Regions from separate parts of the Homo sapiens genome. Here region 2 is linked to region 1. A link means that fine-mapping ties the variant in region 1 to the expression of a gene that starts in the linked region. Tissue or cell type: visceral fat. Region 1 holds a variant in brackets; the other region holds the start of a gene. All regions are shown on one strand. Distances are between the middles of the regions. Region 1 overlaps TF (transferrin). Region 2 holds the start of TF (transferrin).

The links. PIP is the estimated chance that this variant, and not a neighbour inherited with it, causes the effect.
Region 2: TF starts here. The variant in region 1 is fine-mapped to the expression of TF in visceral fat (GTEx, PIP 0.97).

The regions. Positions count from the first base shown.
Region 1 is chr3:133,760,999-133,776,361 of GRCh38, reverse strand. It overlaps TF (transferrin), which reads right to left. Exons shown (of 17, transcript NM_001063.4): 10 at 12,087-12,180; 11 at 11,455-11,487; 12 at 9,929-10,084; 13 at 8,198-8,333; 14 at 5,790-5,854; 15 at 745-929. It also overlaps the pseudogene ACSL3P1. Among named protein-coding and RNA genes, the nearest start is that of TF, 22 kb to the right of the region's middle. The variant TATTTCA/A (reference allele first, on the strand shown) is at 3,630.
Region 2 is chr3:133,737,250-133,752,612 of GRCh38, reverse strand. TF (transferrin) reads right to left here and starts at 6,220. Exons shown (of 17, transcript NM_001063.4): 1 at 6,130-6,220; 2 at 4,029-4,201. The coding sequence starts at 6,172.

The sequences.
Region 1 (15,363 bases):
GATTAGAATACTCAGGCAGCCCCTGTCTTCAACAAGGCTGGCCCTGAGTGGTTGTTCCCCCAGAGGGCAGGCTCTCCGAGGGCAAGGGTCCTGTGTTTTTCAGACTGTTGAGAACAGTGCTCAGTCTGCCTAGGCAAGAGGAACAGAAATCCACTCTTCATGACTCGTATCAACAAGCGCTGGGAAACAGGAGCTGTCTTCTTCATTTTCGGGAAGGACAGGAGTAGGGGAAATGAGGGTACCCCTGAACAAGGTTAGGGGGAGCAGAAAGGCAGATTCCTAGTCCCAAGAGTACATGGATCAGATCTAATCACCAGTGACCAGGAGCTAGAAGCAGAGCTGGGCCTGAGAGGTCTAGTTCCATAATTACACAGCTAACATATTTTGAGCACGTCCTATAGGAAATGGAATTTTCCTATGCCGTTTGGGTGCATGTCTTCACTTAATACTCATGTTAACTGAGAAGTAGGTAAAAATATTATTATTACAATTTTATATATGAGGAAGCTGAGGCATAGAGAGGTTATGTAACATACCCAAGATGGCACAACTAGGAAGCTGTGGAGCTGTGATTTGAACCCTGATACTCTAGTCCACAATGCATGGCATGAAATGCACAATGCATGGAATTCTAGTTTTCAAAAAGAAAGTGCTGGAGTCATGGCTGCACTTTGTTGTAAACTCCCCCCGAATAGCCTATGGCCATCTAGGAAGAAAAGGTGGGAGGACCTGGCTGGTCCATACCTGCTGTTGACGTAATATCTTGTGGACGCAAGCTTCCTTATCTTTCCGTGTGACCACAGCGTGATTCGGGGCTCTGGCCAGGTGGCAGTTCGCATACTCCTCCACAGGTTTCCTGGTACCATCAAGGCACAGCAACTCATAGTCTTTTTCATTCAGATTCTTAGCCCATGGATCAGGGTTTTTTCCTAGGGACAGGAAGAAGGTGGTTCAGCTGATGGCTTTGGTCAAGGTGCCCCGCTGGGGAGATGGAACTGACTCAGTGGTGTGTAGAGAACCTGGGCCTTCTCGCCAGCAGAAGTGCCCACACTGGGGTTACAGTGATGTGGACAGGAAGAGACACCCATGTGGTCTACAAGGTGATGCCAGACTCACAGTGACCAGGAATGATTATTGACCATCCCCTTCCAACCTTCCCTACCCAGCCAGGTGAGAATGAACTACATTCTGCAGATGCTGTTCAAAAAGATCTTCAATTCCACTAAATTCCAATTCCTTCTGTACCTCTTGCTCCAACAGAGGAAGAATGTGACGCTCTAAGCCAGGTTGATCAATTTCTGTGCTGTAACACATGGCATCTCCAAACAAAAGAACTTTTCCTCAGAGAACACCTTTGGAATCTGCACCAGAATTTTAAATCTGACTCCCTTGTTCCAGTTCTAAATGAGAATGTGCACACACCTGTGTGATACAGGTCTGTATCCCATCTCGGCCCCTTTGCCTCTTCTTTTCTGTATTGTCTCTGAAAAAAAAAAAAAACTCACCCATTCTTAGGGTTTCAGCTCCTTCCTCCTGAGCCACTTTGCAAATATGTTTTGCTAATTTTTATTTCTCTCCCATAATTCAGAATTGCAACCTTTTTAAAAATGTATTTTTCATTTAATTTTGTTTCTTTAACCGAATAACTAATACATGAGATCACACTCATAAATTTTTGAATATCTCTCTATATTAACTAAAAGCCTCCTTTCCTATACTCTCCAAATCTCACTCAGTCTTATAGTGCTAGTCTTTAATATCACATTTGCGAGTTTCCATCCACGGCTCATTATATGTATTTTTCTACGTGTGTATATGGATTTCACATGTTTCTAATTTTGTTTAGTGTTAGATCTTGACAAATGTAAAACTCTGTAGCTTTTTTTTCAACTGTTTACATACCTTATAGATTCTTCTTGTCAGTACATACAAATCAAGCTCGTTCTTCTTAACTACTGTATTATATTTCATAGTGTGGCTATAATAGTATCTTTAAACCATTCCTCTTTTAATAGGCATCTGAGGTGTTTACAATTTTTTGCCACTAAAGTAGCGTTAAAATGAGTGTTACTGGCATATAATTGTGCTTACATAGAAGTGGAATAGTTAGTTCAAAGGGTATATGTATTTTTATTTTATTTTATGTTATTTTATTCATTTATCTATGATACTATGTTCTCAGCCCTCTCCAAGGCACAATCTTATTGGAGGGGAAAATAACACACATACCAAAACAAAAAATTCAGGGCAGGGATAATAATATTTTATATTTTGTAAAACACTCTAGATGCTGTGTGAGCTCAAACCAGGGCTTTGAGAACAAATGAATTAAGAAGCTGGCTGGAGGAGGCAAGATTTCAGTTGTCTCTTATAGTGTGTGTAGGATGAGAGGAGGAGAAAGGAATGCCTCTCTGCGGGAGGAAAGGAGAGTGCAGGCGAGACTGGGGGCAGGTGTGTGCCTGGTGTTTCTAAGGGAGAGAGGAGACCGCCTCTGGAACCATCTCAGGCAGTAGGGTATGTGAGGCACTCAGGCAAGAGGAAAAGTGGGTTTGTGAGGACTTATGAATGGAAATTGATGTTAATGAATGAGCCAGAACCTAAAGGTAGAAAATTAAGAAAAATCAAATGGGAGGTGATTCAGTCTGGCTAGGAGGGCATCTAGAAGGGCATGTTAAAAATATGCTTTTTCAATAAAAATAATACACGTTTATTGGTGGAAATTTATAAAATGCCACGTAAGTATTGGGAAGAAAATTTTGAAGCATTTGTAATTTCATAGTCTACGCCTTCAAAATTGGTACATTTCTAACATTCTTTTTCCTACACACACCTATAATATGCACATACACACACACACACACACACACACACACACAAATTGTGATAAAAGAGCCCATGTGGGCTGAGCGCGGTGGGTCACACCTGTAATCCCAGCACTTTTGAGAGGCCGAGGTGGGCGGATCATGAGGCCAAGAGATGGAGACCATCCTGGCCAACATGGTGAAACCCCGTCTCTACTAAAAATACAAAAATTAGCTGGTCGTGGTGGTGCACGCCTGTAGTCCCAGCTACTTGGGAGGCTGAGGCAGGAGAATCACTTAAATCTGGGAGGCGGAGTTTGCAGTGAGCTGAGATCACATCACTGCACTCCAGCCTAGCAACAAAGTGAGACTCCATCTCAAAAAGAAAAAAAAGAAAAAAAAAAAGCCCACGTGGTTTTGTGTCTTCCTTCTTGTATATACCATAGCACTTAAGACAGATTTTGGAGGAGGGAGAGAGGGGGGCAAGAGTTGAAAAGCTACCTGTTGTGTGCTATGCTCACTACCTGGGTGACAGGTTCAATCATACCGCAAACCTCAGCATCATGCAGTATACCATGTAACAAACCTGCATATGTACCCTCAATCTAAAATATAAGTTGAAAAAGCAACAAATTAATAACAGAAGAAGGTAAGAAGGTGCAAAATATAAGTATGATGAATCAGACATGATGTGACTTACATTTAGTAATATTTATCAGGAATGTGATATTAAGTCAGGGGTATTAGACCAGTAGTTCCCAAACTTACAATACATCAAAATTACTTTGGCTCTTAAAAATCATGTTGTCTACCTTAAATACACACAAT[TATTTCA/A]AAATTTAGTTTGAAAAAAGACACGTTTTGAAGAAATAAGATATTGACTGACAGACTTAATCTAGGCCTGATGGGCAGGGAGTATAGCAGGATTCTCTATAAGGATAGAGGCTGGGAGAAGAGGAGGGAACGTTGACAGAAAGATGAGGACAGTTGAGTTGTATATGGATTGTATATATACAACTACAATATATGAGGACATCCATATACACACGTAAAAAAATACAATTGCAATGCCAATGTACTCTCTACATAAAAGTGACACCTTGGGAAATAGACTGGAATGGAATTGAGATTGGATGTCAGGCCTCCTATCTTAATTCTATGCAGGAGGGAAGAATTTTTGAGTCATTGCAAAGAGTAAGAGAGTCAAAGCTTAAAGAAGGGAGCTCTACTCAGAAAAGTACCAAAAGAAATCAAGGGTGGCAAAGAGCCAAGCTTAGGGTAACACTCTCTTAAAGGAAAAAGCAATAATACGAGGGAAGAAAGGAAAATTAGTCAACCCAATATTTCTGCAAACAAATTCTTAGCAACTGCTGTGTACTATGTGCTACACTAGGTTCTGGGAATATAAGATGAAGAAAAAGAGCTCAAAGAGTTTCTGTAGCCAAAGTGTATTACAGAGTGTGGTGAATTCAATCATAATGGCAATATGAACAGAGGAGTCTTCTTGTAGGACAGGGTATGCCATCTGGGAAGGCTTCCTGGAGGGGCTGGTGCTGAGCCGGTTCATTCTGGATGAGTTGCCCAGGAAAAGTGAGGAGTTGGGGAATGAACATGAGAGAAGGCAGGGAAGTATTCACAGCTTGAATTCCAGTGGGCTCTGCTAGCACTTAGTGATACTGAGGGGTCAGGTGTGGAGTGCTCAGTCTGGCCAATGTTTGTTTTGCTTTGTTTTGTTTGTTTTTATTAATATTATGGCTGTCCAACGTTCACCCACAAGTTAACACCCATTGATTCTTTTTTTTTTTTTTTTTTTTTTTGAGACGGAGTCTCGCTCTGTCGCCCAGGCCGGACTGCGGACTGCAGTGGCGCAATCTCGGCTCACTGCAAGCTCCGCTTCCCAGGTTCACGCCATTCTCCTGCCTCAGCCTCCCGAGTAGCTGGGACTACAGGCGCCCACCACCGCGCCCGGCTAATTTTTTGTATTTTTAGTAGAGACGGGGTTTCACCTTGTTGGCCAGGATGGTCTCGATCTCCTGACCTCATGATCCACCCGCCTCGGCCTCCCAAAGTTCTGGGATTACAGGCGTGAGCCACTGCGCCCGGCTTAACACCCATTGATTCTTGCTTGAATCAGTTATCAATATATTGGTTGCCAAGTGATAGTTTTCTAACTCTATCATTCCTTCCACATTGATTAGTTTTCCCTTCTTCATTTGTTTAATCAGTATTGCCTCATGCATTCTTATTTCTTTCAATGGGCTATTATCCCTTACTGCTATCATTATTTATTTTAATGCTCAAAATTCCCAGACTTGGCAACAGGAGATCCTTCAAATTGGTTCTTGTATGCTTTGAGTGTCCCATCACTGTTTGAGCACTTCAGTGTGTTGTTCTAGGCTCAGCATCTATTTTTCCTGCCCCAGCCCTGAAGTCAGCTATTTTTCCAAGGAGTTCTGGTTCCTTTTAGTAAAGAAGAGTACTTACAAGCCAATATCTTGGTGCTTACTCCTGCTGGTATGCCATTGCCTCTAGGCCTTCTCAATGGACACAACCCAGAAGTACAGTAAATAGCTATAAAAGGCATTACTGGGATAACTGACAACAGTTAAATGTGGACTGTGGACGTGACGAGTATTAAATCCACATAATGTAAAAGATCCTGATCTTGGTAATCATACTGTGGGTATGCAAGAGATTGTCTTATTCTTAGGAAATAGGCACTGAAGTATTTAGGGGAAAGGAGCACAAGGCTTGCAGCTGTGGGAGTGTGTGTTGGGGAGGATTTAGGGCCATTGGGGGCCCCATAATCCTGATCATTCTGCGCACTCAGGTGAACATGTCTCTCTTCACTGAGCAGACAGACTGAGAATCAGAGCTTTGAAGTCTGACAGTGTACATAATACTTCCACAAAGGCATCCCTGAATACAAGTGAATACCAGTGACCAGGATCTAGTGATCTAGGGGGACAGAGGAGCAGGTGCACTTACCCCCAGTGTTCTGTGGGACAGTCTGGTGTTTCACAAAGGCCACATCTCCCTTCTCAACCAGACACCTGCAGAGGTCCAGAAGTGGGAGAGAAAAAAAAAGGCGGTCAGAGTGACTTATCTGTCATTCAGGGGGCTACCTTATAGATTCAGGACAGCCATCTGAAAACAGCAACTGTAACTTCCATTCTAACAGTAAGCAATGTAAGGAATAAAGAGAACAAAAACAAAACACTCTGAATTGATTGTAGTTTTACAATCTCAGTTCCACATACTAAATCTTAATTTTTTGTACTGTTTCTCTGAGAGATGACATAATTTCCCTGACATCAACAAGGATAGTAGGGAATTGATTTTCAGTGAGGTGATGCCTCCCCCAGCATATGAATGAAAAACTCAGTTCCTTCAGGTTCTCATACAAGGCGAATGTCTAGGCAACATTTGTGAGAGACTGAAACTCCATCACAAATTGCAATTTGTGCTGTCCTTCATTCCTTTGAAAAAGAATTTTAACATTTATGGAGCATTTGCTATGTTGTGGGTTTTTTTGTTTTTGTTTTTGAGAAATGCAGAGAATATGGCAAAACATGGCATAAAGGCACCTGACTCTACTAACTCCCAGGCCACATATCTCTGGGTGTGGTAATGGGGGTTGTAACACAGCTCTGAGCTACAAGTCCCCAAGAAGTTTCAGAAAAGAAATAATAACAAAATAAACTCTGGTTAGTAGGGTTCTAATTTTAATTTTGACTGTCTTCCAGTCCTTTGAAAGGGCATACCACACAGATGATGAACTAGTGTGTACTTCAAAATCTACACAAGGCCCTCCTCAATGAGCCGAGTGGGTTGGACTTTTGGACAATGGACTGAACCCTGCTCTCCATGTACTTTAATCCCCTTGCTTCAAGGAAAAGAACCTGCCTATTACTGCATCGGTTCAAGAGTTTTGGGGGTAGCTAGCTGAGAAGACGGGGTACCTATTGTGCCACATATTGATTTAATTTTATTTTCTTTGGAGTTTGGAGTCTTTTTATCAGTCTGGTACATTTTACTTCATAGCTAAGTTTTATAAGACATGTTTAGAAAAAGAAGCCTTTATACACATTTATTTTAAGCATGTTTATACATACATGTTATTTGAGCCTTTTCTCATGACCTATAATTCTCAAACATATGTTATCACCAGAAAAAGACAAGGTACAAAAATGCAAAGGGGAACTCTATTTTAAGTCCCCCAAACTCTTCAATCTTTATGAAAACAACATGCTCTACTTTGTGAAATTAGAAACTTGGGGAATGTGAATTGTACTTAATCTAACTTACAAAGTGGCTCTAACTGGAAAATAGGAATGACCTTTGTTTTTTACATCATTACGGGGAAGCTCAGTTATAATACCATCATCATTGTGCAGTTCATGGATTCATGAACCACCAAATAACAGAAGGCCTAAAGCAGAATGGGTAGTTAAAAAGTAATAAGGTAGGGCCAGACGTGGCCCACGCCTGTGAGTACCAGCACTTTGGGAGGCCAAGACAGGAGGATTGCTTGAGCCCAGGAGTTTGAGACCAGCCTAGGCAACATGGCAAAACCCTGTCTCTACAAAAAAATACAAAAATTAGCTGGGTGTGATGGTGCATGCCTGTAATCCCAGCTACTAGGGAGGCTGAGGTGGGAGGATCGCTTGAGCTCAGCAGGTTGAGGCTGCAGTGAACCATGAGTGTGCCACTACACTCCAGCCTGGGCAACAGAGAGAGCTCCTGTCTCCAAAAAAAAAAAAAAAAAAAAAAAAATAGCAAGGTACACAGGTATCTCTATGAAAATGAATGATAGGCACTCCATAAAGTACAATTGTAGTTAGGAATTTAGGAATCATGTACTATTCTGTATTTCCAGATGAGTATTGTTCTGGATTATCCAGAGGTGCATGGAAAAGCTTGAGCCAAACTCTCCACTCAGTGTTTATTCAACTACAGTAGGGTATCATTGCCGAGGCACTAGTGACACTTGGGGCTGGATAATTGTTTGTTGTACCATGCTATCCTGTGCATTGTTGAATGTTTAGTGGCTTCTACGTGTTAGATGCTAGTAGCACTTCCTCCCCCACCCCAACATTGTCACAATAAAAAATATATGCAAACATTGCCAAATGTCCCGTGGGGGTCAAATCACCCGTTGACAACTGCTAAACTGTACCAAACACAAGTCTCTGCTGTCTTTGACAGCCATGTCAGCATCCTGGGGGAGTCTGGCTGCCCCTCCCCATGTGGCTCTATATCTGGTTGTGAAATATACTCTCTTAATACATGCCGCACTAATGGAATAGGAACCTAAGAATCTTACCTTAGTTCCTAAAAGAAATCTGGCCAGGGCTTGTATATTATTCTATTTGTTTCAGGGTTAAAAGACTCACCTGAAAGCGCCTGTGTAGCCGTAGTATCCCTCTTTGTTGTTGGGTTCACACAGGTTTAGGCCTGAGCCCATACACAGCTTACAGAGACTGGAGTCTTTCTTAGACCCAGGGGCACAACCTTCACTGAAAAATTCATCTGTGCAGAAGGACAAGAGGAAGTCAGCTTTTCCTGAGTCAATGCAAGCAGCTTTTATTTAAGAGATAACAGGGCTGCATGGCCCATAATAAGTAGAACATATTCATTAATTCTGTGACCAGCCACCACCAACCCAGGACTTGCCAGGCTATAGGCTTTAAAGGGGAACCTATTGAGATTGGGAAAAGGAGTTAATGACCATTACAATTCAGGGCAGAGGGGATTTATTTGAGCACAATAATGATGTCATCACTACGCTAAACAAAGAAGAGATGAAAAATGTCATGAAAGGGAACAGAAAAAGATGAAGACTGAAGGTCTTGCTTCCTGAGCTTGTGCCACCTGTTTTCAGATGTCCCCATTCCCTGCCATTCATTAGAAGAGCCTTTGCTACATCTCCAACCTCAGGAAAGGGATGGGGAATTTTCTTTGCAGCTCAGCTGCTCTCCTGTGGCCATAAAAGTGCTAGGAGGTTCAGGAGGGCAGAGGTAGTGCCTTTGTCAGTGGGGATCCTGAGTTTTCTGAATGTCACCTTGGCCACACTTTGCTTCATGTCTAAGTGGTGTCACAAAGCACCCTGGTACAGAGGCATACTCTCATCACCACTTCCCTGACCCCACAGGGTTTTCTGGGTTAATAACCAGATTTAGAGGCCTTTTCTTTTTTAAAGAGTTGCCCAAATTTGGAGGTGGCAGGGACAAAGTACTTAGGAAGCTAATGTAAATCAGAACCACTGGAAAACATCTGTCTGTAGGAGAACTTACACTTAAAAGTTTAAGCGGGGTAGAAATAAGCTCATACCTGGTGGTATTCAGAGGACATAGAAAATGAGGTGATTTCTACTGCTTAGAAGGGTCCTAGGAGCTGGGTAGGGACTTGGTGAGATTGCCAACACCATGAAGAGACCCGGGATCTCCCACACTCACATACCATACAAAACCTTGTGGCAGGGATTGCTACCTGTCTACCCAATATCTGTTTCTCCTTGTACTTTGTAACAAAAATCTGGTTTTATCTGGGGTAGGGACATTTCCAGATGAACGATTACATTTCTTTTTTACAGCTAGGTATGGTGATGTACCTAAGTTCTGGGCAATGAGAAGTTTGCTGAAATAACTGGTTAGACTTCCTAGAGAGCTCCTTTAAAAAGGTGGCATAAACTTCCATTTGCTGTAACCCCTTGGTGACTGGGGCTGCCTGGATCATGGATGCGATGGCAACCATGGGGTGACCTTGAAGATGGAAGTCTTATGCTCAGAATAGAGGAGCAGAAAGTGTGAAGGAGCCTGGGTTTCTCATGACCATACCAGCCATGCACTGCTCACCTCTGGTCTTTCTCCTGAGAGATAAATGTATATTCACTCATGCTAATATGTTCAACCTAAATGAACCGTCCCAACTCAGCAACCCAGTTCCAGTCCTTCCAGCCCTTGTTGCTATGTCCTTGAGGACAGCAAATTCTACTGTTCTTTGACCAAATTCTACTTCTCTAGAACCAGAGCCCACAGCACCTTATGCCACACTCCTCTTCCCTAAGGCAGGACCCTGCTTTCTGGCATGGCCCTCACCAGCCCTCCTTCCCAATATTCACTCACCAAATCTGCAGTGGTTGATCTTATTGTAGAGCAGGCCCATGGGGATGTTCCAGCCAGCGGTTCTGCCAACTGCCGTATGGCAGGACTTCTTGCCTTTCAGATTGTCCCAGGTGAGGTCAGAAGCTGATTTCTTCACCACTGCTATAGCAAAATACCCTACAAGAAAGACACCAGAAAAGGATGTATTAACACCTCTGGGGCTTCCAGAGTGTCTGCTTCCAATCAATTTCCCTAGGGAAGCAAAGATATCCTCAATCAGTCATTGTGTCTTGAGAGGATCTTCCCAGTATCTGACTGAGGGGAAGTACAAGGAACTCTGTCAGGAGAAGATTAATCTGAACTTTAAAAACAAAATATTGTGAAAACACCATCATTAGATCAATGGCTGGGTGTATAACCCTTCCCTAAGTGCATAAAGTCACTGAAGTTATAAGCCAGCAATTCACCATCCAATGAGTCCTATCAGAGGAATGGATACTGAAACAGCTAATGTAACCACAAACTTTCATAAATTAACATATGTTGAGATATAGTAGTAAAAGATCAATAAGCAAAAGAGAAAAAACTGAGCCAAACATTTTCTGATAAGGAGAATATAGTTTTATACCAAAATAAATATGCAAAATGGAAAATGTCAATATCAAGTCAGCTTCCATTTTCAGCAGCAAATATATACTGGTCCTTAAAATGGGAAATAGAACATCAACCTATGATTTCAGTTTGCCAGTTTAATTCAGATTACAGTTTCCAACAGAAAACAGAATCTTTATTATCCATAGAATAAGAATGGCTTTTTCTATATCTGCTGAAGGGCTTAGCTCCCCAAGTGATGGGGAGAGGCTGGGAGGTTATAATCAGTGGAAGTGGCAAGGACAGACTTGTACAGTAATGGCTGTCTGGAATGTGACCTGCAGGGGCCTGAGCATAGGGGGCCAGTGCTCACCTTGGTGTAAGACTTCCTGACTTGCTCCTGCTCTGTTTCTTCAGATGTACCCTTACCCAGAGCCCTGGGTGAGAAGCCAGGTTGGCCTGGGTTCCTGGACCCAGCCCTGGCTAGAAGGTCAGATAATTTTATGTTCCTTGATATCTGCCTGTGTGAGGCTCTCTATTGAGCCCTGTAAGGAATAAATAAGCAAAGTTCCTTGGTTGGTGCTTACTCTTATCTGAAAATGTGCAGGCCTCATGTCATGTCAGGTGAGGATCAGTGGGAAAGACCTGGATTTCCCTTCCTAGATGTATAATCCTAGACGATCTGTCTGTAAACTCCCTCAGCTTAGGGTCCACTTGTGTATCCTCAGAGGATGCCAAAACCTACCTTATAGCATTAAATGAAAAATCCTGTGTGCAAGCCATGGCAAGTGTAAAGGGATAACCATCATTATCCATTACTATCCTTCCATGATTCTCTCGCATTGTGAAAATTGGTCTCTTACAGCACCTTATATACTTGAATTTTAAATCTAACCAATTCCCCAAAACAATGGGAATTTATCTTTTAACTCCAGAGGTTACCAATTCAAACTCACCTGCCTCTGGTGTATCCTCACAATTATCGCTCTCTGCAGGAGAAAAGAAAATGAAAAAGGCATTAAACCCTGATTTATAGATTGGGAAACCATGCCTTTTTTTTATGCTGCAGCTAAGAATAAAGAAAGTCAGAGAAAATTATCTATACATGTCATCAATTCCCAACAAGTCCAGACTCTCTGGATCATGCAAGTCCATTTCACCTCCTGGCCTCTAGAATTTATCCACAAACTGCGAATGTCAAGTTTCCTGCTCTGTCTGCACTGAGACCACAGAGGCGTGCTAGCCAACTATATTTAAATCCTAGCAACAGGGCAGTGAGAGAAGTGTGAGTTTTGGAACCTGGAAGACTGCCAGAAATCCCAGCTGTCCTTTGCAATGGGGTCATCTTTAGTGAGGACTTCCCAGTGCAGAACTTTCATTTCCCATTTCTGGAATGTACTATAACTCCCAACCTTCAAGATGACTGTGGGGATTTGAGATGAAGGAGCCCAGAGCTTGCAAAGTAGGAGGTGCTCAGAGAGGGAAAGCTTTATGGCAGCTGTGGTATGAATCAGACTGTGATTTTTCCATCTCCTCTCTCCATGGCCCTGAGGGAAGAAAACACAGAGAGGTGCTCCCCACCACTTACTATTGTAGTTTTCTGCCAAGACAGGCACCAGACCACACTTGCCCGCTATGTAGACAAACCCTCCATCCAAGCTCATGGCATCAGCTTCTCCATTCTGCAAAGACACAGCAAATCACAGCAGATGAAAAGAGGCTGTTTCCTGTGCCACCCACTTTTCCAGCTGTTTCCTTGAAGCAGCCTTTCCAGCACATGAATGCCAGGGAGATAGCAGATGCTGATACTGAACCCCCAAAAGATCAGCCAGGCACACTCAGCAGAGAAAATCAAATGTACTCTCATTTTCACCCAACCATCATGAACTGATCATCAACTCCAGGTGCCTAGTTCAAGAGCAAAGACCCACATTCAGTCCTCTTGCCCTCTTGTAGGACACACTGTCCCAGAGACACTCCTACGACACATTTCTGACACCAAGAATTCTCACGTGCAGATGGATGAGTGGAGTCAGGGACTCGTGGCTGTGGCTGTGGAACACAGCACCTTCTGAAGGGGGGCTCTAGCCTCTAATGTCAGCCTCCTTGGCTGAGTGCTATTTCCGTGTTTGGTGCATACAACATGTTTAATGAATGAGTCAAATATTTTCAAATGTTCTAAATCTCAGCTCTAGTAAGCCCCAAATTTCAGAGATGCTTAGATTCAACAAGGTTTGTAAGATTTCCCTTTGGCCTGGCAATATACTTTCTAGTAATAAACCATAAAAGAACAATCAGATTGGTGGGCAACTATTTGGACAAAATGTGTAAGTGGGCAAAAATAACAGGTGTGATTTATAATAGCAAAAAGAAAATTAAACTAAATGCTCAATGACAGAGAAATAGCTAAATAAGTGGAAGCACATCCATGCTATGGAATAGATATCAGTCTTAAAATATCATTTTTTTCTTTAAAACGTAAGTATGGCTATATTTATTTCTCTTAATTCATGCAAGATAGTAATTACACATCAGCAAATATTATCCTCAATAATGATTTGATTCATAAGCATTTGAAATGTATGTAATTTCACATCAATAGCCTTGCATTTTTTTAATACTGTAAGTTAAAAAGCACCCCCCAACAGCCACTTTATATATTTTCCATAACTCCCTCTACACATCCAAACTTTAAACATAAACTGAATATATAGGTCATGTTTAGAAACTTGAGGTTTTAGAAATCTGCTTCCTCACTATGATTCAGAAAACTCCTTATACTGACAATACAGTCACAGGTTAGGTAAAGGTAGTTGTAGGAGGGGAAAAGGAAAAAGACAGACACAAGTTTGCTCTCCTACTATTTTACTAATCCTGTCTGTTGAAAATGGTGATGTCTTAAGAAGTAAAAATCTAGGTTGAATATGAAGAATGGAGTTTGCCTCACAGTTTGAAACATGCATTTCAAATAATTTCCTATTTGATTTGAGCTCACTGTAGCAAACTGATGCCAAAAGAGAAAAATCATTTCTTCCACACATTCGCTCAGAGTCTGCCTGGTAATGTGTATTAAATTCTTTGTGTTTTAGCTTGAAGGCACCTGTCACCAGACCAGTTTCAGGATTCATGGGTCAGGGCTCAAACCAATTTTTAATAGATTTTCAAACTTTTTCAGACACGCCCAAATAGCAGCTTCAGAAAGTACTTTACGTATGGTAGTCCCCTCTTATCCTCAAGGGATATGTTCCAAGACCCCCAGTCTTGGAACCTGAAACCCTATACAATGTTTATTTCCTATACATACAAGCCTATGATAAAGTTTATAAATTAGGCACAGTAAGAGATTAACAACAACAATAATAAAACAATTATAACATACTATAATAAAAGTTATGTTAATGTGCTCTCTCTCTCTCTCAAAATATCTTAACATTTTTGGACCACGGTTGACTGTAGGTATAACCCAAGAAAGCGAAACCTCACATAAAGGGGGACTACTGCACCTCATCTTCTGTTTCACAACTGTTAGAGAGCTACTCTCAAGTTCCTGTAAGTCCTTTCTTTCAAGTTAGTTCTGTTAGTTCCTTTTGATTTGGCACAACAAATCCAATGACATAAGAACAATTAACTGTTTGCAAATGCACAAACGTCATCTATTACTGGGAGATTCTTCAGAGTTGGCTCTACTTTCCCAAGGGAAACATAGTCTCCTGCCTGTAGTTTTACAAGGTCCTTTTTATGATCGATCATCTGTAAACAACCATCAAACTCTTCAGCATCTCTAGGACATAATCACTTCTGTCCATTTCCATCTTCAAATAAATCAGCTTTTGTTTCTGCTTCATTTCTGTAGCATCCCATTGTCACATTTTAGCCACCGATAAGAATTCTACCTCTGGGATGTGGTTTTTCAGTATTAAAGTATCCACCTTCCTCCCAGTTCTTTAATTTAATTTCACAGCAAACTAATGGGACTCTCACTTCTGCCAGTCTTGTAATCCACACATCTGTAATTGTTCCAGCCCCTGTAGGTTCAGTGAGTCTGTATTCATGAACTTGCTGCGTGTTGCAGAAAGTGGAGCACTTTCATACAATAAAAGCTGAATATTTCCACCTAGCTAGCTTCACAGTTTCCAGAAAACAAAGCTGTCACACAATCCAGTACTATGCTCTTTTGAAATGTGTTCCATTTTATAATTATAAGCCAGAATAAACAGATTGTGTTGAAGACTACTGATTTCATACACTTAATTCATGACATTTTGGTAGATCTGATCCATGATTTCCAGAACAGCTGCCATCAGTGTTGGTCTCAACCCAGAAGTACACCCTTTGCTTCTGGTTTTTATTTTTTTATTTTTTATTTTTTTGAGATGGTGTCTCACTATGTTTCCCAGGCTGGACTCAAACTCCTGGGCTCAAGCAATCCTCCTACCTTAGCCTCCTGAGTAGCTGGTACTACAGCTGCATGCCACAGTGGGCAGCCCATTTTTTACTTTTAAAGACTGATCCACTGAAGTCTGGGGTGAAGAGGAGCCAAGCAGGCATCCATGAGAAAAACAAAGAAGCTCAAAGCTTAATTCTAGAACATGGGCCACAGGTAAATATCCAATGTAGTCATCTTCCTCCTCCAGTCTGGGAATCCTTTCTGCCATCCCAGTAATACCAGTAATGATGTTTCTATGCGAGATGATGACTCCCTTTGGAAGTCCTGTGTGTCTACTCATGAACATGATTACTGCAATAACCGAGGGCACTGGTCACTTTGGGATCTGTTTTCCACACTCACCTTCACTTTCTACTGCAGCCATGATGTCCATGATAACAACCTTGGGAAATTGGGACAGGTCAGTGGCTTCCCATTG
Region 2 (15,363 bases), 24 kb after region 1:
GTCCCTTGAAATATTATAGCTGCCTTCTTACTAGATCTATAATTTATTTTCTTTTTATGTAAATCCTTAAAGTGAGCCCAACCATCTTTTATTTAGACACTTAAACACATAGTTTTACTCCTTTTTTGTTTTAAATGTCTTTAATCAAAATGATTTTTCCAGAAGCCCTTGCCAGTTCTCTATGAAGATTTCTTATTGATCAAATTACAAAGCAGGCCAGGTATAGTGGCTCATACCTTGTACTTCCAGCACTTTGGGAAGCCTAGGCAAGTGGATCACCTGAGGTTAGGAGTTCGAGACCAGCCTAGCCAATATGGTGAAACACTGTCTCTACCAAAACAAACAAACAAAAATTAGCTGGGCTTGGTGGCACATGCCTGTAATACCAGCCACTTGGGAAGCTGAGGCAGGAGAATCGCTTGAACCTGGGATGCAGAGGTTGCAGTGAGCCGAGATTGTACCACTGCACTCTAGCCTAGGTGACAGAGCAAGACTCTCAAAAAAAAAAAAAAAAATTACAAAGCAAAAGCTATAGTTCCATGAACTTTGTTGTGTTACAATCAAGTAATAAGACAATAGTATTTCTAAATGAAATAAAATATGTTGTAAGACAAACTATATCAGCAGTCTCGCTCTTGTCCCTCAGGCTTGAGTGCAATGGCTCAATCTCGGCTCACTGTAACCTCTGCCTCCAGGGTTCAAACGATTCTCCTGCCTCTGCCTCCCAAGTAGCTGGGATTAAGGCGCCTGCCATCACACCCGGCTAATTTTTGTATTTTTTTTAGTAGAGATGGGGTTTCACCATGTTGGCCAGGCTGGTCTCAAACTCCTGACCTCAGGTGATCCACCCGCCTCGGCCTCCCAAAGTGCTGGGATTACAGGCGTGAGCCACCGCACCCAGCCAATTTTAACCATTTTCAAGTGTACATTTTAGTGGCATTAAGTACATGCATTCACGTTGTTTTATAGCCATCACATCTATCCATCTCCAGAAACTGAAACTCTTTACACATTAAACAATTACCTCCTATTTCTCCCCCACTCCAGCCCCTGGTAGTCATTATGCTACTTTCTGTTTCTATAAATTTGACTATTCTAGATACTTCATAAAAGTGGAACTTTGGGAGGCCGAGACGGGCGGATCACGAGGTCAGGAGATCGAGACCATACTGGCTAACACGGTGAAACCCCGTCTCTACTAAAAATACAAAAATTAGCCGGGCATGGTGGCGCGCGCCTGTAGTCCCAGCTACACGGGAGGCTGAGGCAGGAGAATGGCGTGAACCCGGGAGGCGGAGCTTGCAGTGAGTCGAGATCGCGCCACTGCACTCCAGCCTGGGCGACAGAGCGAAACTCCGTCTCAAAAAAAAAAAAAAAAAAAAAGTGGAATCTTACAATATTTGTCCTTTTGTATCTAGCTTGCTTCACTTATGTTTTCAAGGTTCATCTCAGTGTAGCATATATCAGAGTTTCATTTATTTTTAAGGCTAAAAATATTTCATCATTTGTGTTTACCACATTTTATTTATCTATTCACTCATCAATGGATATTTGGGTTGTAAAACATATTTTTAATATACCACAATACAAAACAAAATTAACAGACATCATGGGCCTTTCTGTTCCACAACAACTAGACCTTATATATGAAACACACTTCGTGGTTTTGTTTAATCTGCAAACACCTTCCCTTCCCCAGTCCTCACATTGTTGAATAAAAATGAAGCAAACAGGGTGCAGCACACCAACATGGCACATGTGTACATATGTAACAAACCTGCATGTTGTGCACTTGTACCCTAGAACTTAAAGTATAATAAAATATATATATATTTTTTAAAAAATGAAGCAAACAAACGAGAGCTTTGCCCATTGCAGTGGGGTTGGGAGAGTGGTCAGGAACCTGGTCTTTCTTTGCCAAGACACCAAGAAATCACTGGTGCCTCGGGGGCTCAGGGAGCCAAAGAGCTAAGGCCTAAAACACAGCGTCCAGCCCTAGAGCTGCAGGGTTCCCAGGGGAACCTGCGCCAGCTGGGAGGGACAGGATTATAATCAAGCAAGCTCTCACAAGTCAAAATAACCAAACCCAGAAGAGGGAAAGCTACAGAGAGAAGGCTGGAGGGAAGCCAAGGGGAAGCCAGCAGAAAGACACGGAAAACCCCAGCGCGGGGATTGAGGGAAGCCAGGCTGCATCTGGATGTTTCTTCCACCTTTTCCCTTCGGCTAACCTACTGCTTGCTTTGTGCTGAGAACTGTAGAATTTCCCACACTTGACACATCTGTCCAAACCTCTGCACTAAGAGACCTGACCAGACTCTGGCATGGCTCCTAGCAGAACAAATCTGTGTCCCTAGGATGGCCCGGTTCCCCTTAAAGTGCTTGCCTGAGAAAACTCAGTGCTGCCAGGAAAATGTACCTGTTTCTTCTACTCAACACACAACTGATGATAGGCCCCTGACCTCCCTTTCCAAGAGAATTTACTAAAAAGGACTTAAAACTGTGAATATGTATCTCTTGAAACTCACAAGCATCTCTCTCAAGGACTGAGAGCCATTCCTTTGCAACACAATCATCAGGATGGATAGAGTGTCTGTCTCGCAGTCTCTGCGGGAGAATAGAGTCCTAATCGAGAGAACTGCCAGCTATCAGACACAGCTGGCCTCCTCACATTTACACTGACCAGCCCTTTCTACCTTTTTACTTCTCTGACTCTACAGAGCCCTGCGTTCTCCCCTCCCTCATTCTCCCTTTAAAATGCTCACATCACCACTGCACAAATCAGAATGGAGCCTAGCTCTTTCCCCCACTGTCAGCAGTTACTGAATGAAACCTATTGTCACTGCCTAAACTAATATCTGGCTGTGCTTATCTTTGACAGCTCCCATCACCCTGGCCTCCCACTAGCAACTTAAATAAGCCCACTCTGCTCTGCCTCAGGCCCTTTGCATATGCTCTTGTTTGCTGCCTGGTGTATTTTACACTGGAGCCCACCCAGGCTCAGTCCTTCATTACATCTCTCTCAGAGAGATGGTCTCTGACCACCCAGGACAAAGCAGGTTTTTCTGTGAGTCCCTGTCAGAACACTCTCCTTTTTCCCTCCATTGTACATCCCCACATTTTGGAATTAGTAGTTTACTTATTCGTGTGTTTTTCTGCTCTCCTGACTAGCCCATGAGCTCCCTGAGGGTAAGGACCAATGTGTTTAATTCACCACTGCAGCCCCATTGCCCAGCACAGGATCTGACATGTACAGATGGGCAGGGGCAACGTTGAAAGAATGAAGAGCATTTTTGTAGACCTAAGAACAAAAAGATCAGCTGTCACCTGCAATCAGGACACTTTACTCTTCCCCCTGCATGCATCACTCATCTTCCCAGTTGTGTATCAAAAGCTGCCAAAGAAGGTTATATAATAATTTTGATAGTGGGCATTCTTATTTATTTATTTATTTTGAGATGGAGCCTCACTCTGTCACCTAGGCTGGAGTGCAGTGGCAGGATCTTGGCTCACTGCAACCTCTGCCTCCCCGGTTCAAGTGATTCTCCTGCCTCAGCCTCCCAAGTAGCTGGGATTACAGGCATGCACCACCATGCCCAGCTAATTTTTATATTTTTTAGTAGAGATGGGGTTTCGCCATGTTGGCCAGGCTGGTCTCGAACTCCTGACCTCAGGTGATCCACCTGCCTCAGCCTCCCAAAGTGCTAGGATTTCAGGCATGAGCCACCGCGCCCAGCCTGATAGCAGGCATTCTTATATTTTCGCCAAGTTCAGAGAACCTAGGGTCTCAAAACAGTCACCCTTGCGTCTACTGTGTCTGGAAAGCAAAAGTTAATGTGCTTTTTGACTTTTGCTTTCCAGACACATTAAAGAAAACCTCCCCATTTCCACTTTTGAAGTGATTTTAGTAAGTCAAGGTTGACTGCCCCATATATCAGCCTCCTACCTGTGAGTAAAGAATTGTTCCAAAGTGACTGGAAACAGAGAAAGTATGGCTTTCTTCCACTCTCTTTTAGGCAGCAGCGACTTACCGCAATGGCCCTGATGCAATCAAGGTAGGAGGCTTTCTTCACACAAGCAACACTGGGACCATCGGATGGAATGACGCTTTTCATATGGTCGCGGAAACTCTGGCACTTAGTGGCCTCATGCTCCGACACTGCACACCATCTCACAGTTTTATCAGGGACAGCCAGACACAGCCCTGGGGGAGAGAGGCCAGAGGTGGAAGGGCCCACTCCCTATGCTGAGGGAGAGACAGCATCGCCCCTAGAAAGGCCTTGACAGCCACATCCCCTCAGTCCTGTCCTCCTCTCACTCCTGTCCATGAACACTACAGGGCACAAGTTCTACTGCATTCTGAGTCTGAGCCAATAGAAGGTTGCCCTAATGGCCTCCCAGTTTCCTACTGACCACCCTCTGCTGGCCAGAGGGGTGCAGGCATGGCCATCACCTCCCAGCTGGAGATGACAATCTGCTCCTCTGTATCCGCCTTGTCTCCTCCCATCACTGTCCTGGCCCCTGGCCCCCCATGGAACATAAGCCTCAGTATGCACAGGGCGTTTTCAGCTACCCCAACACATTGGCTTGCTACCTCAACTATGGAAAACCAGCGGGGGAGGAATTGCCATCTTTTTGAGAAGAGGGAGTGAGACTCAGAGAATGATGCCTTTTTTTTTTTTTAACCCAAGGTCACCCTGCTTGTCGTTGGCCAAGCCAGGCCTAGAATCTGGGTCTCCAGACTCTGGGTCTGCTACTCAGGGCACAAAAGAAGAAAACATTCTGAGTTACACCCCTTCTTGGCCAGTAGTTGAGGGTAAATTAACGAAAAGAATTAATTTGTCTGTAACTCTTGTCTGTTGCTCTCTGTTTAGGAAGAACTAAAAACTCCACAAATTCAACAGTCTCCCCTCTGTCTCCACTGAACTATCCCTCCATTTTCACCACACTTTTTGGCTGCCATTCACAAAAAAAGCTGAAGCCAGCCATGGGTAACTATTAAAATCCATGTGGTTGCAGAGACAGCATCCCTATCACATGAGCTTTTGCCCTGTCCCCAAGGCCCTCTGTCATCTCCACTCCTTGTGGGCCACCACAGCAAGGCTGACTCACTGGCTCTGAAGAAGATCCACAAAGCCTGTGGAGAGGAGGCCCACAGCTCTCCAGGATGCATGAGGAGGGGCCACCAGGGATGGCCACCCCAGCGACCCCCATTTTCCCTCTTGGCCCATGGGAAATCCTAGGAGGCAACATAAGCCTGTGGCAGCCCCTCCACAAAGCCCTGCCTCCAGAGTTCCCATAGGCGAGAATGTGTCCTCAGTGGAGCATTACCTTGCACAGCCTGTGAAGTGCTCTGTGCGGGGATAAAGGCAAGTAACGTGGGGTCCTCTCTCAAGGAATTGCTAGCTTATGGGGAGAGAAAACTAAACGTGGAAGCCCCAACAGTGTGACAAATGCCCCATGAATGGCAGGCAGAAGTTAGAGTATGAAGGGGGCCCCACCTCAGGAGGTCGGGGAGTGTGGCGTCAGCCACTGCCCCATAGCAGGATGTGTGCAACATCTGCCACTGGTACTCAGCATCTGCCACCTCGCTGACCCTCATTTGACCCTCCCAGGCAAGTGCTGTGATGACCCCCTCCCTGGTGAGGAGCCGGCCAGGACTTGGATCCAAGAAGTCTGGCTTCAAACCCCATGCTCTGACCGCTCGATGGCACCGCTTCCTTGGCAGGACATCTACAGCTCCCAGGGCACCCAGGGGACATCAGCCTCTGAAAGGGGAATGGTCAGACCCGGGAGGCCTTGAATGCCATGCTAAGGAGTTCGGACTTGACAAGAGGCAGCAGCAAAGGGTTTTGATAACCTGGTTAGACGTGCTCTGATTTATTGTATTTCACTGCTGCAAGATTTACTGGACAAAGAGGAGGAGGGGGAGAAGACAGTGAGTGCAGTGAAAGGTGTCTAGAAGCCCAAGCAAAGGCCAGGGGTGGGGCGTAGAGAGGCAATGGAAAGGCACCCAGACACCCAGGCTTCCAGCCTGAGCGCGGAGTGCATGCAGGCTGCGCGGTGGCCGCCCGGGTTGCAGGGAACGCGCGGGCCAGCGACTCTGCGGTGCTACCCCGTGCCCGCACTCACCCAGGACGGCGCAGACCAGCAGGGCTCCCACGGCGAGCCTCATCTTCCGGGTGCGGCGCTGAGCAGCGAGCACAGTCGGACTCGCTTCTGTGCAGCCTCCGGCGCCCCGCGTCCCTTTATTCCATTCCCGGCCTGGGCGGGCTGGGCGCAATCTTTGACCTCCCGTGTTTGTGCAGCCGGGTTGCCCAATCGCCCCTCTCCCAACCCCCCTTCCTTACTCGTCCCACTGATCACCTCATTTTCTGAGCTCTGGAGACGACCCGCGAGTGGAAGGAGTCCAGCACAGAAATGTTGATGGGAAGGGACATGAAGCACAATGCAGCCATTGTCATCGCGGCTCGCTCGGTGCCAGGAGCGGCTACGGCGGGCTGGGAGCCGGGGGGCTCTGCTCCTGACTCCAGGGCTGCAGAGCTGGTCCGTGCCACCAGTCCTATCTGCGCAGTCCACAGAGGAAGACTCCGAGGCTGGAGAGGGAAAAGAACTGCGCCCAGACCCCACACTAGAACTGCAGAATGACAGGCAAAGCCCCTTTTGGGGGAGGATGCAGGAGAAACAAGCTGGGCTCAAGGTCAAAGACAGACTCAGCACCTTTTGCTCCCCACCAGGTGTCCCTCGAAATCCTGCTCCTGGGCTCTCAAAGGTCCCCCACGGAGGAGCTGCTCCCTCTTCCTGCCCCGCTGAGCTCAGGCTCCTGGGCTGGAAAACTTCCCGCCCTCAAGCTTCCTGTGGGACACCTTAGACTAGGGACAGAGTCATAGGGGAAGATGAACTCCCTCCAACAAGAAGGTTCCAGGAACATGGTCAAGACACTGTGAGGCTCAGAACAAAGTGTCATCTTAGCACAAAGCAAGCGGCCCAGTGGACGGTGTGGCCTGTTCTTACAGCCTGGGGCCACCATGTCCCCCTCTAGTCGATGAGTCTCCTAACCAGTTTAATTACACATCCTTATCATGAAAAATATTGAACTTGTGCCTTCTATATGCTTATATTTTAACTAAAAAATGTGTACACTTCAATCATGCACAAGGAATAGAAATTTGTAAAAGGATGAGCTAAAGATGAAACTCATTTTCAAATGTCGTTTTGCTTATGCGGCCTTATACAGGATTATTATCTCAAGGCATAATATACTTGGGGAAAGGTCAAGATTCCTTCCACGAAGTGTAAATCCAGACTTCAGAGATTTTGCCAAAAGTTACTTCTTATCCAACCTGACCAGATGGTCATTCATTCTGTCTCATGTTTTAGTTGACCAAGCTCATATCAAGCCTAGTGGACACGTCAGGTCAGTCATTTGATTTTTGTTCACTTGTTTTTGTGTTGTCAGAATTGTCTCCTAATTCTAGTTTCTTTGTAAGAATCTTTTTAAGGCATGTGTGCATCTCGTGAAGGTTGGAGTTAAAGCCAGATTATCTAATCTGTACATCCGTTTAACTGGGCACATACAAACCACAAAGTATGGAAATAAAAATGCCAAAACAAAGGGCAGGGTCGGCACTCCCCTTTTCACCTTTAGCATTGTGAGGTGAACCCCATCTTCCCTTAGGACACCTGAAAGGCTCCATCTGTCATGACTGCAGACTCAGGTGGGAGATAGGGCCAATTCACACATTCAATATGAATGAATGATAATTTGTTAATCTTTTGCAATAACAATAAATATAACTGGAAGTTAGATTATGTTCTCCCACACTCCAAAAGATTATCTCATATGCAAAGGGGTTACATACCTCCCACTTTAGAGTCCACTACAGAAGCTTTCTGTTTACAGTGAGGACAGAAGTCAAGTCTGGCTTTCCCAACACATCAGCCTCACCAGCGAGGGAGAGTGACCACTGCTGCCCTGTCTTACTCCCCCCTTGCCCGTCCACGGGCCCCTTGTGCTTGAGCCATAGGGAAAGAAGACTGTTAGCATGAGGGCCATATTCCTACTGCCCCTGCAGCAGGCTCTAGGCAGTGGTCTGGATTCATTTGGAGACCTTGAGGTAAGGATGTGAGATGAGCAGGAAAAGTCAGGGGCAAGGCTAACTGGAAGGCACCCAGCAGAGCAGCATGCACACATACAGCTGATGCATGGACAGGCCCTGTAGTAAGCTTGCAGGGTCTGCCAGAGAGCAGGAAGTGCAGTTACGAAAGGTTGAGCCCATGCCACAAACTCAGGGAAGCTCAACGCAGGGCATGGAAAGAAGATGGTCAGTGATTCTCCTTTTCTGGAGCCCATCTACATTCGTAGACTAAGCCCCGCTGAGGCCAGTCCTCCAGCCACAGGCCCATAGCCTAGCCAGAGCCCCTCAGCAGGGAGCAACTACCTACTGGCCAGGCTGAGTCCTCTCCAGAGCAGCCAGCTCTATGCCCTGTCCTCAGAAGGGTCCTTTGAGTCCAAGCCCAAGACAGGTGCTGGGAAGGAAATATACAGCCTCATGGGATATGAAGGAAGCTCAGACAAGACATAGAGAACTGGTGCTCCCACGTCATCTACACACACCTAGATGGAGAGGCCAGGGCCTTGGCTTTTGCTCAAGAGGACAACAGCAGAGCTTCGTGCTTGCCATTCCTTGGATGGGGTAGGCAGGGGTGAGGCCAGCTTTGGGGTGTACATGTGTGCATGGCCCTAGCTGTATGGGGTGCCTATGCCTGTATATGTCTATAGGAGCATGTGAAGGTAAGAGGTTAACATTACAGCGCTCCATGTCCATGACACTTGTACCTGTGCTCTCATTTATATTCTTTAATTCTATACCAGAGATGTTCTGGAGTTGGAGAATCACTGTCCCTTTTAATAGCTTAATGATGGCTGAGATTTACTGGGAGCTTCACTGAGCACTTACCATACCCCTCTGACTTTGGTGCTTTAGCATCTGTATCTTACAGATGAGACAAGGAAACTGAGGACAAGAGAGGATGATATCTTGTTCAAGGTCAGCTGCAAAGTCAGAATACAAAAGAAGGCAGTCTGGTTCCAGAGTGTACACATCCACCAGGGACACTGCCTCTCCCAGGAAACCAGGACATGCAGGGGCCAAGGAGCTCATCTGGGGTCACACCGAGAGAGGGACAGACATGAGACTCCCAGCCTTGCCATTTCTCCAAAAGCACACAGCCCCCAGGGCTTTGCCAGCACAGGGGCTGGTCAGTCTGGGAGAGGTCTGAGTACCAACTGCAGATCCTTAGACATGGACTGGCTTGATTATGCTCAGCTGGAAGAAAATATCATGTTTTTATCCCCTTGTATGTGTCAGGCACTGTCCTGGGGCAAGATCATTGGGGCAGCCATGCAAGATAAGATCAGTACCTCCATTTATCACATGTGGTCATTACAGTCAAATGATGGGTCCTTATTCATGGAGCTCTGAGACCTGAACTCAAACTTCCTAAATCTTGCCCTTCTCCAGACCACAGCTGCCTTCTTGATATTGACCTTCTCTTTATTTATTTAGTGGGGGAGGAAAGAGAGGGAGGGAGGTGAGAGAGAAAGAGAAAGAGAAAGAGATTGATAGAGGACATAAAGGAAGCTTCCAGTTCTAGACCAACCCAAGCATGAGCCAAATCTTTCACCGCAAACAGGGCAAAACTCTCAAATTTCAACCACGAGTTGGCCCTTAAAGAAATAGCTGCGCTTGTGTGTACGTGCAGGAAAGCTGGAAAAGCTGACCAGCAGGAGGTGGGTAAGAAAGCAGTGGGCCTCTGAACCAATATTTGTTGTTTCCAAATGTTGCCCAGTTGACACAGAAGCAAAGCAAACAAAGAGCCTCTGTCTGTTTTGAGCAGTTCCTCCTGTCCCCCACCCAGTGTCCTCTGCCTGACACCAGAGACTTCTCTAAGTCTGGGTCATCCTTGAGAAGCAGCAGCCTGGCAGCCTGAGAACCGACATTCACGAAATCAGTCACCCTGCAAGCCCGCTGGGTCGGGCTGTATGGCTAGGGGGTTGGGGACTGGGCAGGGTACTTTTAGGAAAATGCCAGGCATTTTGAAATGCCACATGACACCACTGCTCACTCGCTCTCACTCTCTCTCTCTTTCTCTCTCTCTCTCTCCTTCTCTTTCCCTTTCTCTATCTCTGTTCTACCTCTCAGAAGTCCTTGGACAATGAAGATTCTCAAGGTTTCCATTCTTTTCACAGGGGAGTCTGCAAAAATACCTGTCTCATGAAGAATAGTCCAGGGCCAGGTGGAATGAATTCCATCAAACATTTAAGAATTACAGCGTGGGGGTGGTGGCTCATGCCTGTAATCCTAGGGCTTTGGAAGCCTGAGGCAGGAGGATTGCTTGAGCTCACGAGTTCAAGACCAGCCTGGGCAATATAGTGAGAACTCGTCTCTACAAAAAATTTAAATCAGCTGGACACAGTGGCATGCACCTGTAGTGCCAGCTACCCAAGAGGCTAAGGTAAGAGGATTGCTTGAGCCCAGGAGTTCAAGGCTGCAGTGAACCAAGATCACAACACTGCATTCCAGCCTGGGCAACAAAGTGAGACCCTGTCTCTAAATAAAGAAAAAGGATTAAACCAATATATTCCTCCAGGAACAGAAAAGTAGGAACACTCCTTAACTAATGTTTTGAGGACAGTATGTATACTTAGAAAGGAAAAACTAACAAAGACATCATGACAAAGATAAAAAAATAACTTCTATGAACTCAGATGCAAAATTTCTACACAAAAGATTAGCAAATAGAATCTAGCAAAATGTAAAAAAGATTAATAAATAATTACCAAATTGGGTTTATTCCAGGAATGTAAGCTATCTTTTCAAGTATCAATCACTGTAATATATCATATTAGTGGAATAATAAAGGAAAACGGTATGACCCTATCACTCAGTATGGGAACATCATTTCATAAAATTCAATATCCATTCATAACAAAACCTCTTAGCAAATTTATTCGACAAACCTTTCTCAGTCTGATATCAAGTATTAGTGTACCATAAAAATCTACAGAAATCATACTTAATGTGGCATGCTGAATAAAGCTTTTCTGTTGAGATCAGTAATAAGACCAGAATGTTTACTATTATCATTTCTGGTCATCCTTTTTACGGGAGGCCCTTGCTAGTTTAGTCAGGCAAGAAAAAGAAATAGTAAGTAAAAGGATTGAAAAGGAAAAAAATAAATTCTCATCTTTATGCATAATAAATTGTATGTATATAAAATTCTGAAGAAACTAGAGTATACCTTAGAATAAATGAGTTAAAGCTGGGCATGGTGGCTCATGTCTATAATCACAGAACTTTGGGAGGCTGAAGCAGGCAGCATCACCTGAGGTCAGGAGTTTGAGACCAGCATGGCCAACATAGCAAAACCCCTTCTCTACTAAAAATACAGAAATTAGCTAGGTGTGGTGGTGCACACCTGTAGTCTCAGCTACTCAGGAGGCTGAGGTGGGGGAATTGCTTGAATCTGGGAGGCAGAGGTTGCAGTGACCTGAGATTGTGCCACTACACTCCAGCCTGGGTGACAGAGTGAGACCCTGTCTCAAAAAAAAAAAAAAAAAAAAAAATAGAGCTGGATCAAGGTAGGTAAACACACCAAAGTCAATTGTATTTCTATACTCAAATTAAAAAAAAAAAAAAAAACATGAAAAATGCTACCTAAGGTAACATAAGAAAAACAAATGCCTAGGATTAAATCTATCAAAAGACATCTAAAACTTTTATGTACCAGACTTTAAATTAAGAAACTCAAAGTAAATGGAAAACTATATCTTGAACAGGGAGTGGAAGACTTGATATTGTAAAAATTACAATTCTCCTTAAATTGATGTAGAAATTCAATGTACTCCCAATCAAATTCCAAATGTTTTTTCATGTAAATTAACAACATAATTCTAAAGTTTGTAAAAGAAAATGCAAAAGAGGCTGGGCACGGTGGCTCATGCCTGTAATACCAGCATTTTGGGAAGCCAAGGCGGGAGGATCACTTAAGGTCAGGAGTTCGAGACCAGCTTGGCCAAAATGGTGAAACCCCGTGTATACTAAAAATACAAAAATTAGCCGGGCATGGTAGCATGTACCTGTAGTCCTACCTACTCGGGAGGCTGAGGCATGAGAATCGAGAATCACTTAAACCCAGGAGGCAGAGGTTGCAGTGAGCTGAGATCATGCCACATTAGGTATTTCTCCTAATGCTATCCCTCCCTTAGCCCCCAACCCCCTGAGAGGCCCCAGTGTGTGATGTTCCCCTCCCTGTGTCCATGTATTCTCATTGTTCAACTCCCACTTATGAGTGAGAACATGTGGTATTTGGTTTTCTGTTCCTGTGTTACTTTGCTGAGAATGATGGTTTTCACCTTCATCCACACCCCTGCAAAGGACATGAACTCATCCTTTTTTATGGCTGCATAGTATTCCATCGTGTATATGTGCCACATGTTATTTATCCAGTCTATCATTGATGGGCATTTGGGTTGGTTCCAAGTCTTTGCTATTGTGAATAGTGCCACAATAAACATACATGTGCTTGTATCTTTATAGTAGAATGATTTATAATCCTTTGGGTATATACCCAGTAATGGGATTGCTGGGTCAAATGGTATTTCTGGTTCTAGATCCTTGAGGAATTGCCACACTGTCTTCCACAAAGGTTGAACTAATTTACACTCCCACCAACAGTGTAAAAGCATTCCTATTTCTCCACATCCTCTCCAGCATCTGTTGTTTCCTGACTTTTTAATGATTGCCATTCTAACTGGCATGAGATGGTATCTCATTGTGGTTTTGATTTGCATTTCTCTAATGACCAGTGATGATGAGCTTTTTCCCTTATGTTTGTTGGCTGCCTAAATGTCTTCTTTTGTGACATATCCTTTGCCCACTTTTTGATGGTTGTTCATATCCTTTGCCCACTTTTTGATAGGGTTTTTTTTTTCTTGTAAATTTGTTTATGTTCCCTGTAGATTCTGGATATTAGCCCTTTGTCGGAGGGATAGACTGTAAAAATTTTCTCCCATTCTGTAGGTTGCCTGTTCACTCTGATGATAGCTTCTTTTGCTGTGCAGAAGCTCTTTATTTTAATTAGATCCCATTTGTCAATTTTGGCTTTTGTCGCCATTGCTTTTGGTGTTTTAGACATGAAGTCTTTGCCCATGCCTATGTCCTGAATGGTATTGCCTAGGTTTTCTTCTAGAGTTTTTATGGTTTTAGGTCTTATGTTTAAGTCTTTAATCCATCTTGAGTTAATTTTTGTATATGGTGTAAGGAAGGGGTCCAGTTTCAGTTTTCTACATATGGCTAGCCTGTTTTCCTAGCACCATTTATTAAATGCGGAATCCTTTCCCCATTGCTTGTTTTTGTCAGGTTTGTCAAAGATCAGATGGTTGTAGATGTGTGGCGTTATTTTTTGAGGCCTCTGTTCTGTTCCATTGGTCTATATATCTGTTTTGGTACCAGTGCCCTGCTGTTTTGGTTACTGTAGCCTTGTAGTATAGTTTGAAGTCAGGTAGTGTGATGCCTCCAGCTTTGTTCTTTTGGCTTAGGATTGTCTTGGCTATGCGGGCTCTTTTTTGGTTCCATATGAAATTTAAAGTAGTTTTTTCCAATTCTGTGAAGAAAGTTAATGGTAACTTGATGGGGATAGCATTGAATCTGTAAATTACTTTGGGCAGTATGGCCATTTTAACAATATTGATTCTTCCTATCCATGAGCATGGAATGTTTTTCCATTTGTTTGTGTCCTCTGTTATTTAGTTGAGCAGTGGTTTGTAGTTCTCCTTGAAGAGGTCCTTCACATCCCTTGTAAGTTGTATTCCTAGGTATTTTATTCTCTTTGTAGCAATTGTGAATGGGAGTCCACTCATGATTTGGTGCTCTGTTTGTCTGTTATTGGTGTATAGGAATGCTTGTGATTTTTGCACATTGATTTTGTATCCTGAGACTTTGCTGAAGTTGCTTATCAGCTTAAGGAGATTTTGGACTGAGACGATGGGGTTTTCGGAATATACAATCACGTCATCTGCAAACAGAGAGAATTTGACTTCCTCTCTTCCTATTTGAATACCCTTTATTTCTTTCTCTTGCCTGATTGCCCTGACGAGAACTTTCAATACTATGTTGAATAGGAGTGGGAAGAGAGGGCATCCTTGTCTTGTGCCGGTTTTCAAAGGGAATGCTTCCAGCTTTTGCCTATTCAGTATGATATTGGCTGTAGGTTTGTCATAAATAGCTTTTATTATTTTGAGATATGTTCCATCAATACCTAGTTTATTGCGAGTTTTTAGCATGAAAGGGTGTTGAATTTTGTTGAAGGCCTTTCCTGCATCTATTGAGATAATCATGTGGTTTTTGTCATTGGTTCTGTTTATGTGATGGATGATGTTTATTGATTTGAGTATGTTGAACCAGTCTTGCATCCCAGGGATGAAGCCAACTTGATCGTGGTGGATAAACTTTTTGATGTGCTGCTGGATTCAGTTTGCCAGTATTTTATTGAAGATTTTCTCATTGATGTTCATCAGGGATATTGACCTGAAATTTTCTTTTTTTGTTGTGTCTCTGCCAGGTTTTGGTATCAGGATGATGCTGGCCTCATAAAATGAGTTGGGGGGAGTCCCTCTTTTTCTATGGTTTGGAATAGTTTCAGAAGGAATGGTACCAGCTCTTCTTTGTACCTCTGGTAGAATTCAGTTGTGAATCTTTCTGGTCCTGGGCTATTTTTTCTTGGTAGGCTATTAATTACTGCTTCTATTTCAGAACTTGTTATTGGTCTATGCAAGGATTTGACTTCTGCCTGGTTTAGTCTTGGGAGGGTGTATGTGTCCAGGAATTTATCCATTTCTTCTAAATTTTCTAGTTTATTTTCATAGAGGTGTTTATAGTATTCTCTGATGGTTGTTTGTATTTCTGTGGGATCAGTGGTGATATCCCCTTTATCATTTTTTATTGTGTCTATTTGACTCTTCTCTCTTTTCTTATTAGTCTGGCTAGCGGTCCATTTTGTTAATCTTTTCAAAAAACCAGCTCCTGGATTCATTGATTTTTTTAAGGGTTTTTTTTTGTGTGTCTCTACCTCCCACAGCTCTGCTCTGATCTTAGTTATTTCTTGTCTTCTTCTAGCTTTTGAATGTGTTTGCTGTTGCTTCTCTAGTTCTTTTAATTGTGATGTTAGAGTGTCAATTTTAGATCTTTCCTGCTTTCTCCTGTGGGCATTTAGTGGTATAAATTTCCCTCTAAACCCTGCTTTAGCTGTGTCCCAGAGATTCTGGTACATTGTGTCTTTGTTCTCATTGGTTTCAAAGAACTT